2 linked regions of the Homo sapiens genome follow. The protein of the gene in region 1 interacts with the protein of each later gene in a biochemical or structural test. Each region holds a gene or a part of one and is shown in the gene's direction. Other genes may lie near its edges.

Region 1 (7,028 bases):
GCTGGCATTTTACTGGGTAGATACTGCTGAAGGAAATACAGGGTGCAGATAGTTCAGCTGGTCAATAATCCATGATTCAGGTTGGATAGGGAAAGAAGGGGGGTTAGGAGGGAATGCCTAGGTAGGTCAAAATGTAGGAATCACAGGACTGGAGAAGTCAGAAGTAGAAAAGCAGATTGCTAGGAGAGACAGGATGACAGATTTTGGTCAGAAAATGGGATATTGGAGTTTAAAGTATCAAATACAGAATAGTTCCAGATGTTCAGAGATCCAGCATGGGATTAGGTACTGAAATGGATTAGAACTAAAAGTCACTAGAATTTAGAAATTGAGAACCATGAGAGTGGATGCAATGACTTGTTGCTTGATTGAAAAATAAATTAATAATAATAAAGGACCATGAGACTAGCCTGTTATAGGGGTTATCTCCATGAACATTGAATTTTCCCAGGATCATAGCAGGAATTGGGTAGAGAAAAAGATTATGAGAAGGTGCCAGAGTCTTCAGTGAATGTCAGGAAATTACCAGGAAGTCAGCATATGACAGAGAAAAGGACAGTATGTTATCTGCATCAAAGGAAAATGTGCTTTTGTTGAAAAGTACAGAAAAAGCCAATACTACAATACTGTGCTAAGCCCCTACCTGTACTCCTCTACCCAACAGCTGCATTCCAGGCCCTGTGGTATAAAAGGTGTGAGAATGAGCATCTCCCACCAGAAATCAGACAGGTTTAGTTAAAGCAGTGAGGCAGAACAAGCATCCTATGAAGAGACTGAGGATGTAGGTGAGTGGTTCTAAAATCTCAGTAGAAGGAACATTGCAAGTAGAAAGAGCCAGCAGTAAGGATGCACGTAGCAGTCTAGAAGTAGAGGTGAGACCAGCTTGGAGATGAAATGAGGAGATGTCTTCTGTTCTGTGCTGGAGAAGTACTGGTAAGTGTGGTGTGGTTGGGATTCACAGGCCTCAGCCATCCTCACTTTGGTACAAGTTATTTTGGTACAGAACTACTAGAATGTCCCAAAGGCTGTAGTACAGGAACATTTCTGAAAGGACAAAAGCTGCCATGAATATTGAGAAATTGTATGGTGCCAGGTACAGCCTGGATCTGAGCAAGACTGCTGGATGGTGTGTGGATAGATAGTGAAGGCCCAGATTTGGGAACAGATTGGATCTCAGATATCCAGAGCAGCACTGTAGAATCTAGTTGCATATAATAATGTTTTAAAAAGGGTATCTTAGGCTGGGCACGGTAGCTCCCGCTTGTAGGCCCAGGCCTTTGGGAGGCCAAGGTGGGCAGATCACTTAAGCCCAGGAGTTCAAGACCAGCCTGGGCTGCATGGCGAAACCCCATCTCTATAAAAAATAAAAAAAATAAAAAAAAAATAGCGGGCATGGTGGCATGTACCAGTAGTCCTAGCTACTCAGGAGACTGAGGAGGGTGGATTGCTTGAGCCTGGGGAAGTCAAGGCTGCAGTAAGCCATGATCATGCCACTACACTCCAGCCTGAGTGACAGAGTGAGACCTTGTCGCCAAAAAAAAAAAAAAAAAAAACAGGGCTACCTTACTCTGGAAAAAACACATGTAGCATTGGCTGAATAAAGAAATGGAGCTTCATGATTAAGGACATTTGGAATCAGAGTGCAATAAACTTTTTGTCTTGTAGCTATAACCAGAATGCATGGCTTTGAAAATCACTGCAGCAGTATATATTTAGCATCTGGTCGCTGAATAGCAGTCTCTTGTGACTGAGGATGATTTTCCATGGTTCCTTTTTGTATTCTGAAATGACTAATGGAACCATCTGGGATCAGCAGATTTTAAGTCCCTGAAGGCTGGAAAAGACTTATACTTGGCTTTATAATTCCCCACAAAGTCAGGCCCAGCACCTTGCACTTAAGTGTTTATTGAATAAAAGAGTGACTTGTGTGGAAGTTATTCATTCTGCTTTAGCTGTTTTTGTCATTCATTCCCTTTTAACTCTTGTAGTTTGTTGTGACTTTAACTTTCTTACGCTTTTTTTGTGGAGCTGCTCGATAAATATTTGACATAGGTATTATGTCATTTTATGGCTCATCCAGTGTCACACAAGTAGTAAATGGTAGAGCCAAAACTCAAAATCAATGTCAGTGGATTCTGAAGGTAGGTGCTTTCTGGTACGCTAGAATTAGTACCAGTATAAGAGGCATAGGAGTGATCTTGTTTCCTGAGCGGAAAGCTTTATTTAGCCCTGTGGTCCTACCCACTCATGCAAGGATGCTTCTCTTTCTCGTCTCACATGAGAACCCTGATGACTGAGAGATCAACAGTGTTTCCTCAGGCCCAGCTGCCCTGCCCAGCGTTCCTGCATCCCACTCTCTACAGGCACAATGTTAGTGGAGCATTGTTCCTAGAGTATTCTTCATCTTAGTTGCTTTACCCTTGCTTCATATATTTGTATGTCTCACGTTTCAGATTGCTCTCAAATATCCCTGAAGCACTTTTTTAAAAAAAATTGTGGTGAAATATACATAAAATTCATCATTTTAAACTTTTTAAACTATGATTCTGAATTAATTTAGAATACTTCTGATGTATAAAATGCTATGTAAAATACGATTTTGCTGTTGGCTTCTGTATTAGTTTTTCATTGCTGTATAACAAATTCCTGCAAACTTAGCAGTTTAAAACAGCATACCTTTGTTATCTCACAGTTTCTATGGATCAGGAGTCCAGCCACAGCTTAATTGGGTCCTCTGCTCAGGGTCTCATTGGGCTACAGGCCAGTTGTTGACTGGGTCTGTAGTCTTATCAGAAGCTTAACTGGGGAAAGATCCACTTTCAGGTTTCCTCCGCTGGCAGAATTCATTTCCTCTAAGCTGTAGGACTGAGGTCCCCATTTTCTTGCTGGCTGTCAGCCAGGGACCACATTTAGCTTCTAGGAGCTGCCTGTAGTTGGTCCCTTGCCATGTAGTTCTGTCCATGAGCCTTCTCATAACATGGCAGCTTAGTTCTTTAAAGCCAGCAAGGGAGAGAGTCAGAGAGCAAAGTTTCTGACTCTCAGGGAAGGCCTGGACCCCCTTTAAAAATATACCTGATTAAGTTAGGGCCACCCAACTCAAAATCTACTGATTTGGGACCTTAATTACATCTGCAAAAACCCCTTCACTTTTGTCATATAATCTAATCATGGGAGTGACATCTTGGCGCATTCTGTTGGTTGAAAGCAAGTCTCATAGGTCCCACTCACGCTCAAAGGGAGTGATTACACCTCCCCTTGGTGAGAATGTGGAGTTTGAATACACGGGGTGGGGGGCATTTTAGAGTCTGTGTGCTATGGTTTCCTTTTTTATCCATTTCATAGGGTTTTTTATCAGCAATTGGACACCCTTTCCCCAAAATGATTTTTAATCATGGAAGGAAAAAGAGAACTTGGAATTACCTTGAATTTGAAGAAGAAGAAAATAAACAGTTAGCAGACTCAATGGCTTCTCTGGCATATCTAGTATTTGTACAGGGCATCCATATTGATCAGCTTCCAATGGTCTTAAGGTAAGAGTTAGTGTTTGGTTTATTCATGTATTCTAAAAGGAATTTCATAAAATTCTCATTTATCTAATGTCCAATATATGCATATTAACACACTAATACATTTTAAATAAATAGTAAAGGCTATTTTTAATAAGAATGATCCCAGCTATAATCTGTTAAAGATAGCAGTAGACAAGTAATGAAAGTGGGGAGTGTTGAAATAGGTGTAAGGGAATGGTGGGGACAAGAATCAGAAGATGATAAACAGGGCTTGGTTTTGAAGCTTTTGAGACCACCCTGGAACTAGCCAGGTACCCAGGGGTATCATCATCTTTTCACTGGATTACTGCTGTAATCCTGAGTGGATTTATATATCTACTTTTACTTCCTTTTAATTTAACACATTCTCAACATACCAGAAAGCGAAGCCTTAAAAGAAGTCCCTTACTGAAAACCCTCCAGTGGCTTTTTATTGCTTTAAGAATAAAGTCTTAATGCCTTTGCATAACTTCTGAGACAAACTTGTGCCTGGTCTGGTCCCTGCTTAATTGACCTGATTCATCTCCTACCACCTTTCCTCTTGTTTACTATGCTCCAGTGACACAGACCTTCTTTTGTTTCTAGTTTAAATGTTATGAATTTTCCTATTTGGCCTTTGTATATGCTTAAAATTCTCTTTATCCTTAAATGTCACTTTCTGAAGAAAGCCTTCACTCACCACCCAATTTAGGTTGAATCCTTCTATTATAATTACCTTGACCTTGTCTTCTTTTCCCACAATGTTTATTAAAATTATTTTTAAAATATATAATTTTATAATGTAATATCTTCTGGACTTTGAGTTCTATGATAATAAGGATTGTGTATTTGTCTTATAGGCATTGGGTATTTGTGTGAGTTTGTGCATTTATATATGAATATAGCTAGGAGTACATTCGTATGTAAATGTTGAAATACTGGCTATCATTTGCATGTTCACCATGTATGAAACATTATGCTAATAACTTTATATGCATTATCTCATCCTTATAATAAGCCTGTGAAATAGAGCATTCTCTCATTTTACAGATGAAAATAACAGGCTTAGACAAGTTAATATACCACTGAAGATCTAACTACTTTGTGGCATAGGTGGGATGCAGATAGCTCTGTCTGACCCCAGAGCCTATACTCTTAAGCATCACATTCTATCACCAAAATAACTTATACAGCATATGTATATTAACTTGCTAGGGCTCCTGTAAAAAAGTGCTACCAACTGGATGGTTGAAATAACAGAAATAGTTTGTCTCATAGTTCTGGATGCTCCTTCTGAGGGTTGTGAAGGAGAATCTTCTCCATGCCTCTCTCCTGGCTTCTGGTGATTTGCTCACAATCTTTGATGGTCTTTGGCTTGTAGATGCATTATCCTGTTCTCTGCCTTCATGTTCGTATGCTGTTCTCCCTGTGTGCTTGTGTCTGTCTCCAAACTTTCCTTTTACATAAGGACAACAGTCATATTGGATTAGGGCCCACCCTAATAATCTCATTTTAAATTGATTACCTCCATAACCCTATCTCCAAATAAGGTCAAATTCTGAGGTACTAGAGGTTAGGACTCCAACATATCTTTTTTGGGGGAGATACAATTCAACCCATAACAATATGTATGTGTGTACATATCTCTGTGTGTGTGTATAATATATATATTTGTTTTGTTTCTATTTTAGCCCATTGTACCTTTTGCAGTTTAATATGGGGCACATTGAAGTCTTTTTGCAAAGGTAAGATCGTTTAGATGGTATCTCAAAATGAAATAGTAGTGTTAAAATAGTCCTTGTTAAGATCAGCGGAGACTGCCTTTTCTTTGCTAAGCTCTAATTAATTAATTGGTTATTTTATAAAACAGCGAGGCAAATAATTCACGAGAGAGACAGAAATGAGTCAAGGAGGTTTTACACCAAAGTCTGTTTTATTTTAAACTTAAGACAGTATTAAGATTTTGTCTTAAGGGCTTTTACAGTCATCTGTTTCTAAGGTTTCTTCTCTTACTCCAAAAGTTGGTAAATTAAAACACCTCTACCCCACTGCATCCTCCTCCATCTTAAGGAAGGGCAGTCAATAAAAGAAGTTCTTCCGTATTTTTCCTTCATGGACACAGTCTGTGAATTGCATCAAAAGGAAGGAGGTGTCTTGACTTCCACCTTTTATAATTTAGATTATTGACAGTGATGTCATTCAATTACAACTTTTCTCATTTGAGGTGCTAAGCAGCAGGACTTTCTATTTAAAAAAAAAAAAAAAAAGCCAGGCACGGTGGCTCACGCCTATAATCCCAGCACTTTGGGAGACCAAGGCGAGAGGATTGCTTGACCCCAGGAGTTCGAAACCAGTCTCTCTCTCTACAAAAAATAGAAAAAATTAGCCAGGAGTGGTGGCGCCTGCCCGTTGTCCCAGCTACTTGGGAGGTTGAGGTGAAAGAATCACCTGTGCCTGGGAGGTCTGGGCTGCAGTGAGCAGAGATCATGCCACTGCAGTCCAGCCTGGGCAACAGAGTAAGACCCTGTCGCAAAAGAAAAAAAAAAAAAAAAGGAAATTACAGAGTAACAGGTATACATAATTTCTAGACAGAAATTAAAGAATTTCACAGAACTATATGCTTTGTTTTCTTTCACTATAACATGTAACATGTTTAAATTATCCCCTGAGATCAGTTAGGGCTTTGCAATTATCCTCTATGAACACTAGTGACAGTTTATCAGTCCCATCTCTTACCAGGTGAAGGAAGATTTGTAACATGGCAATGTCCAAAGCTTCAGCATACAAGGCAGGAATTTCCAAGGGTCTCCTGGCACAAGTAGTTACTAATTCTGTAAATTTGCTGTATTATGTATGTTTTAATGATTTTATATTCATTACATTTAGTTTCTGTTATTCATACAGTGATAATATGTATTGTTTTGAATCTAAGTCCTAAATTCTTGAGATTTCCAAACTGCAGAGTCATTGAGTCTTTTTTTGAATAAAAAGAATTGGAAAGATTTTACAGAATAATCAACTGGAATATATAGCATTGGTTATATCAGGTTTAGTTAGTTTCTTAGCACTTGCTGTTGAAGATCTATTGTTTTGAAGTTAGGAAATAATCCCTGAGTAGATTTATTTTGGTCAGATTTAGTGGCCTTAGCCAAACCGAAAGACAGATCAAAGATGGATTAAAACTTTTGATCAAGTTCTTCAACAGAATTTCTCCTTAATGATATGCATTTTAAAAGTGTTAAAATTTCAGTTTTTGCTGTATTTTTCATAAGATGAAGTATCATTCTAAAATAGTTTACAAATTCATGATAAATTTTAATATTATTTTTCAGAACAGAAGAGTCTGTTATCTCCAAAGGATTGGTAAGATGTTTGTTCCCATTATAACTTAAATACATAGTTATGTCAACAAATAACAGCTGTTGACTTCACTATATATGTATCTGCATATATTTTAATCTGTAGGAGCTGCTGGAGAATAGTTTATTGAGAATAGAAGAC
Region 2 (7,028 bases), on another chromosome or scaffold:
CACTGAACAATGGAGGAGCAATATATACACACATTATATGTGAAAGATGATGGGGGATTTTGGGAAGGAATATTGCTTCTTGCACTGTGTGTGACTTCTAGACATAGTGTGCACCTCGAGGGACCACAGTTATTTTTAGCTGGGGAGAAAATCCACGGGGTGCTGGGAGAGTCAGGGCAGGAGGAAGTTTATACTCCCCATCTCCAGAAGAAGGTGGACTGCCGCTCATCTCTGGTACGCGGGGTCCTTTTGTAGTCGAGTTATTGCTTGGAGTCAGGGAAGAGCATTCACAGGTCTGGAGTAGGACTGTCGCAACTCCTTAGATGTCCAGTGAGGTCACAGGAAACCCTCCCTAGATACTGCAGTTCCTGCCAGACTCTTCAGCACTGGCATCTCTGATGAGTGCTCTGCTGCTGGTTTCTGACTTGTCTTGTGTCATTACTCTGCTGCTCATGTTACAGTCGTCTTTTTCACAGGGATGCTTGAAGATGGAAAGAAATTTGATTCCTCCCGGGACAGAAACAAGCCCTTTAAGTTTATGCTAGGCAAGCAGGAGGTGATCCGAGGCTGGGAAGAAGGGGTTGCCCAGGTATGCTCTCTCATTTGTTTTGTTTTGCTTTCTAGTATTTACCTTTTATATTTTTTTATAGGTGGCATATTTATACGGTTCAAAAATAAAAAAAGTGAAAAGTCTCACCCTCATGCCATCCCATCTGACCAATACCCCCACAAGAAGCTCCTGTTGTTAATGTTTCTTGTACTGTGGTTTAAGCACATATAAAAACATAACTTTTTTCTTGCTTTCACACACATACTGTTTTGCAGTTTACTTTTTCACTTAATGCATTTTTGACACTTGCAATACCACTACATAAAAGAGGAGTAGGCTGGGCGCGGTGGCTCATGCCTGTAATTCCAGCACTTTGGGAGGCCAAGATGGGTGGATCACCTGAGGTCAGGAGTTCCTGTAATCCCAGCACTTTGGGAGGCCAAGATGGATGGATCACCTGAGGTCCGGAGTTCGAGACCAGCCTGGCCAACATGGCGAAACCCCATCTCCATTAAAAATACAAAAATTAGCCGGGCGTGGTGGCAGGTGCCTGTAATCCCAGCTACTTGGGAGGCCGAGGCAGGAGAATCACTTGAACCCAGCAGGCGGAGGTTGTAGTGAGCCAAGATTGTGCCATTGCGCTCCAGCCTGGATGACGAGAGCGAAACTCCATTTCAAAAAAGAAAGAAAAAATGAGGAGTAAGCTCTGTTACAGCTGCCTAGTATTCGTTTATGTAAGTGTGCTATAATTTACTTGGCTAGTGCCCTATTAATGAGTATTTGAGTCATTTCCAGTATTTTGCTATTATAAACAATGCTGCAGTAACTCACCTTGTACAGACTTCATTTTCCACGTGTGCACATGTTGCCATAGGACTTACTCTCAGAAGTGGGATGAGGGGCTCAAAAGCTGTGTGTAGTGTTTTTGAGAGGTCTTGTCAAGTTACCATCTCTAGGGGTTGCACTCTGGACTGCCACCACCAGGCTATAAAGGTGCAATCTCCTCCCAGCCCCAGCATCACAGTATATTGTTAAATCTTTGGCCTCTGGACAATAAGAGTAAAACATGATATCAGTGGTTTTAATTTGTATTTATCTATTACCCATATTGTGTGAGACCACTTCTGAGACGTCATACTTATGGAGAAAGTCATTTCGTTTGTCTTGAGTGTGTTTCCTAATCTCTTTCCTCCCCATTTGTGGAAACAGCTTTTGTTCTGCCAACACTACAAAATTCCCAGGAGACAATAGGGACCCAGGGTTGCCAAATTTTAGTTGGATTCTGTCTTTCCATCAAACCTAGGAATTTTTTCTTGGCTCTAACCAGGTAAAGGGATGTTTTTCAGTGACCTGAGACCCAAGGAACTTTATAATTAGGCTCTGCATGATGGGTAATTAGTCTGCTTCCCTCTCACCCAGGAGAATTAGAAATTTAACCAAGATGAAAAGACAGATTTCTGTCTCTCTCTTTTCCAGAATACACATTGCTCTACTTCCTCTATAAAATATCACTGATTTATCTCCAAATAAACTGCTCAACTTTCAGGAACTTGAAGCCATCCCACTCCCAGGTGTCTGGGTTTCTGTTCCTGCAGGGCAGAGGGTTGGCAGTGTGAGGAAGAGGCTTTGTAGTTTACTTCCCTTGGGAAACCTTGCCAACCATAGCTTTTTGCCTCTGTCTCCCTAGTCTGTCTGGCTCTTGGATCTGTAGCCCATCCCCCATCTTTCATGCCAGCCATTGTTCATACCACAACCCATCTTCTGTGACTGCTCCAGCATTGGAACAATCACTGCGTTGTATGTACTGAGTGCTGTATCTGCCATCGAGATAGTGTTATCGGCCTACTTCACTTCCCAGGCTTGGAGAGGCATGGTCGAGTATTGGACAGATGCCTGACTCCCCCTTTAACTGGTATTTTGGGGTCAGTCACAGCCCTGTCATTTGTGAGAAGTCTGGGTAGTTTGAGATCTACATAAAATATCTTTTAAATTCTTCATAGCATATTTTTTCACCAAGTGAGTTAAAAACACAGGAAGAAGGGGAGATTGACTTGTGACCCTTTTCCTTTCCTTTTGATATTGTTTTGGTTTTACATGTTTGCAGGCGTGGAGTCCTGCCTGCCACAAGGACCATTTTGGCAGCTTTCTTTCATCCATCTTGGACATCTTTTCATGTTAATACATTTAAAGCCACCACTATATGATTTCTCATGACTAATCCCTGGTGTGGATATGCCTATGAAACCACTCCTTCTGTGATGGACTTTTGAGTTGTTAGCAGAATATTCTGGAAATAGAATTGCTGAGTCAAGGAATATGATTGTTTTGAATTGTACAAGGTAAAGCCATACCTCACTATCCTTACCACCTTGGTCCAACATGTCCCAGCTTCTGAGGGGAGCAAGGACTAGACGCTTCACAGCCTGGAGCTTCCTCTTTATTCATCCTCTGTCTGGTGGAGTTGGAAAGTCGGGAACATACACATGGAGACCAAAAGCAGAGATAAGTCAAAGGATGGAAATACTGCAGAGAACCTGCTCACTGTTCAGAAAGTAGATATTTTATACTTATTTGTGTATTTAATTTGAAACTGAAAATATACACAAATATATTTTTTAAAGTAGAAATCTCTCCTTACTGGTCACTCACTATCCATACTGTTCTCCTCACAGCAAATGTCTGGTATGTCCTTCCAAAGATGTTTTCTGTTGTAGGCATATCAATATTTTCACAAATGGTATTCAGTAAATGCTATTTTGTAGCCCAGAAAATCATATTGTCTTTTTTGAAGTTTTCCTATATGGGTAAAAGAGTATAAATAGAAAAAATACAGAAAAAATAGACTACCCTCAAGTATTACTTCCTGTGTATATATTTTTTTAAAGCAAAGTTGAGTATTCCTTTTTCAAGAAGAGCATAGATGGCACTTAACATGTCCTTTAAGTGACAGATCACTGAAGGGGACTAGGTGGTGAGACATCTGGAATGTTACCTGCCTAGCATTAGTCATTAAGACTTGCGTAGAAAGGTTGAGGGCCTGACCGTTCTGAGAGTCAGGAGGGGTTTTGAACTGCCATTGGGCTTCTTGGAGTGAGATGCAGGGGTGATGGAATATGACTGCCAACCTCCAAGTCCTGCACAAGGAGGTGGTGATGCCTGGGCAGCTGCAAAGTCACTGGAAAGTCAATACCATCCTGGCCAAGGAACACCTAGGTAAACAGCTCTTTTTCTTACAGAGACAGTTGGGGCATGTGTCCAGCTGAGTCTGTCTTCCTTGTTCTTTTCACAGATGAGTGTGGGTCAGAGAGCCAAACTGACTATATCTCCAGATTATGCCTATGGTGCCACTGGGCACCCAGGCATCATCCCACCACATGCCACTCTCGTCTTCGATGTGGAGCTTCTAAAACTGGAATGACAGGAATGGCCTCCTCCCTTAGCTCCCTGTTCTTGGGTAAGGAAATGGAATACTGAAGGGCCCTTCACTGCCTTTGCTCCTCCCATGTTATGCCCAGCGTTTGATGGGTAGCAGAGAGAACAAAAAACACCACAAGGCTATTTTTCCCCCTGCATTCTTTCTGTATTGAGTATCCTTTCAGTGTTATTAGTGTATGCTTTGAATGTAAAAATTGGTCACCCTAAGGAAAGGAATTGGCATGTGTATGTTCCCAGTTCAACTCATGGAGATGGCAGCTGTTTAAATGTTTTTCTATGTAGTTTATAAATTAAAACTGAATTGAGGACTATGGAAATGTAGGCCAAATTTGTAGTGCCAACATTTTAGTTCTTTGGAAATAAGACTCTTAATGAATGACTTTGTTCTACCCTGTGTTTCTAGAAGCTAGAGGGGGAAAAAAAAAGCCCTTTGGATATGAATATCATGTCCTAGCTTCTGCGGCTCTCTCTTCACTGTGGTTTGTGGTTACTGCCTATTAGATGGTATGAGGGAGGCATTCCTGCATCGGTCCACCTGCTCAGGGTCCACACCCAGGACACTTGAGGCCCCCAGGCCAGCTTATCAGTGAGTGAAGTGGAAAAATGAAGCCAGAGGATGCTTGTGAAGTTGAAAGGATGCTCTTAGATCAGACAGTTCTAGGAAGGGATCTTAGGGGCCTCTGCATCAGCTTTATTGTGCAACAGTAAGGAAACAGGGCCAGAGAGAAAGGCCTTACTCAAGGTCACATCCAGGCAGTGGCAAAGTAGGACCAGAGCCCCTGTTTGTTGATTTTCCCCTCTTCCACCCTCATTTCTTAGGAACTAAACTCAGTATCCTAGTAGCACGTAACTTTTCATGTAAGTGTTAGAATCATTAAGTACATGAATGCTACTGGCTTCCTTCCAACTGGCCCCAGACCTTTTTATTTGCTCCCCTCCTGCCATAGGAACCAGAGGGTCACAGCCAAGGCCTGGGTGAGGACACTTTTGTTTGAAAGCCACAACAAATGGCTGCCATCCTATTTGTGATGGCAGTCAGAGCTACTTGTAACCTGGTCCTGTTGTGCACATCTGTAAGTGGAGGGGCTTTTTAAACTCTCTGTTTGAACCACACACACCTTGGTAATACAGGCCTGGTTAAGTTTGATAACTGGTTTCTTCACCTGTCATTGCTACTGGGAGGGAATCCCTGGCACTTTACAGGGCCTTTGTCTGCCCAGAGGTCTGCACCTAGGCCAAAATCCCTTTCCTGTTCTTTGAGAGCTGAGTCATTTTTTGAACATAACTGTACTCGAGGGAGCCTTGGAATTATTTTCCTGGTTGGGAACAGGCTTTCTGTAAACTTGATGAGGTAGAGGGAGGGGAGAGAGGGATAAAGGCTACAAGTCACCCCGAGTAACCCTCCCAACCCACTGCCAAAGAATGTCTCAGCTTCTTGCAAGAGTCTGGAAGGAAAATCCAAGGGCAAACCCAGAAAGTTTTAAGTTGAGTGAATGAATGAATACTGGAGATATTTTCCCAGTATACTCAACATTATGAATGACCAGTTTATTCTCAGTCTGGACTGCACATGAGAGTCACCTGGGAAATTTTTAAGACTTTCCTGATGCCCAGGTCAAACCCTAAACCAGTTAATCATAATCATGGGAGTGGAACCCAGGCATTAAGAGTTTTTTAAAGCCCCCAGGTGATGCCTATATGTAGCACAGTTTGAGACCCAATGATAGTGGGGAACTGTATTGTCAGCAGCATGGGTGGCTAGCCCTCCTGCTGTCCTCAGCAAGGCAAACTTAACCTTAGATTAAACAAAACACACAGATCAATTTAAGGAGAAAGTTTGTTTCACCTGGGACCCAGCCCAAGTCTTTCTGGCTGTCTCCAGCTGGAACAGAAGTGGCTTGGTCTCAGACTGCTCAGCTGTTGGGGAAGGGATTTGGCGTGGCAGATGGCATCGTGGCTGTCGCCACTGCACACAAAGAACACTGAGTTGCTGGAAACTCACAGATTTTCTGTCCCCAACAGATCTGCCATGGAGGGATCTGGTGCCTCCAGACATGTGCACATGAATCCATATGGAGCTTTTCCTGATGTTCCACTCCACTTTGTATAGACATCTGCCCTGACTGAATGTGTTCTGTCACTCAGCTTTGCTTCCGACACCTCTGTTTCCTCTTCCCCTTTCTCCTCGTATGTGTGTTTACCTAAACTATATGCCATAAACCTCAAGTTATTCATTTTATTTTGTTTTCATTTTGGGGTGAAGATTCAGTTTCAGTCTTTTGGATATAGGTTTCCAATTAAGTACATGGTCAAGTATTAACAGCACAAGTGGTAGGTTAACATTAGAATAGGAATTGGTGTTGGGGGGGGGGTTTGCAAGAATATTTTATTTTAATTTTTTGGATGAAATTTTTATCTATTATATATTAAACATTCTTGCTGCTGCGCTGCAAAGCCATAGCAGATTTGAGGCGCTGTTGAGGACTGAATTACTCTCCAAGTTGAGAGATGTCTTTGGGTTAAATTAAAAGCCCTACCTAAAACTGAGGTGGGGATGGGGAGAGCCTTTGCCTCCACCATTCCCACCCACCCTCCCCTTAAACCCTCTGCCTTTGAAAGTAGATCATGTTCACTGCAATGCTGGACACTACAGGTATCTGTCCCTGGGCCAGCAGGGACCTCTGAAGCCTTCTTTGTGGCCTTTTTTTTTTTTCATCCTGTGGTTTTTCTAATGGACTTTCAGGAATTTTGTAATCTCATAACTTTCCAAGCTCCACCACTTCCTAAATCTTAAGAACTTTAATTGACAGTTTCAATTGAAGGTGCTGTTTGTAGACTTAACACCCAGTGAAAGCCCAGCCATCATGACAAATCCTTGAATGTTCTCTTAAGAAAATGATGCTGGTCATCGCAGCTTCAGCATCTCCTGTTTTTTGATGCTTGGCTCCCTCTGCTGATCTCAGTTTCCTGGCTTTTCCTCCCTCAGCCCCTTCTCACCCCTTTGCTGTCCTGTGTAGTGATTTGGTGAGAAATCGTTGCTGCA

The links.
Region 2: the proteins of GLMN (region 1) and FKBP1A form a complex in vitro, tested with the Homo sapiens proteins (2 studies listed by BioGRID).

What each region holds. Positions count from the first base shown.
Region 1 is NC_000001.11:92,267,967-92,274,994, reverse strand, and holds part of GLMN (glomulin), read left to right. Parts: intron 1-3,342; coding exon 3,343-3,530; intron 3,531-5,218; coding exon 5,219-5,272; intron 5,273-6,859; coding exon 6,860-6,890; intron 6,891-6,992; coding exon 6,993-7,028.
Region 2 is NC_000020.11:1,369,052-1,376,079, reverse strand, and holds part of FKBP1A (peptidyl-prolyl cis-trans isomerase FKBP1A), read left to right. Parts: intron 1-476; coding exon 477-589; intron 590-1,381; exon of another isoform or gene 1,382-1,596; intron 1,597-2,901; exon of another isoform or gene 2,902-3,002; intron 3,003-3,839; coding exon 3,840-3,968; coding exon of another isoform or gene 3,969-4,004; exon of another isoform or gene 4,005-4,364; intron 4,365-6,007; coding exon of another isoform or gene 6,008-6,051; 3' UTR 6,052-7,028. UniProt on the Homo sapiens protein: Keeps in an inactive conformation TGFBR1, the TGF-beta type I serine/threonine kinase receptor, preventing TGF-beta receptor activation in absence of ligand.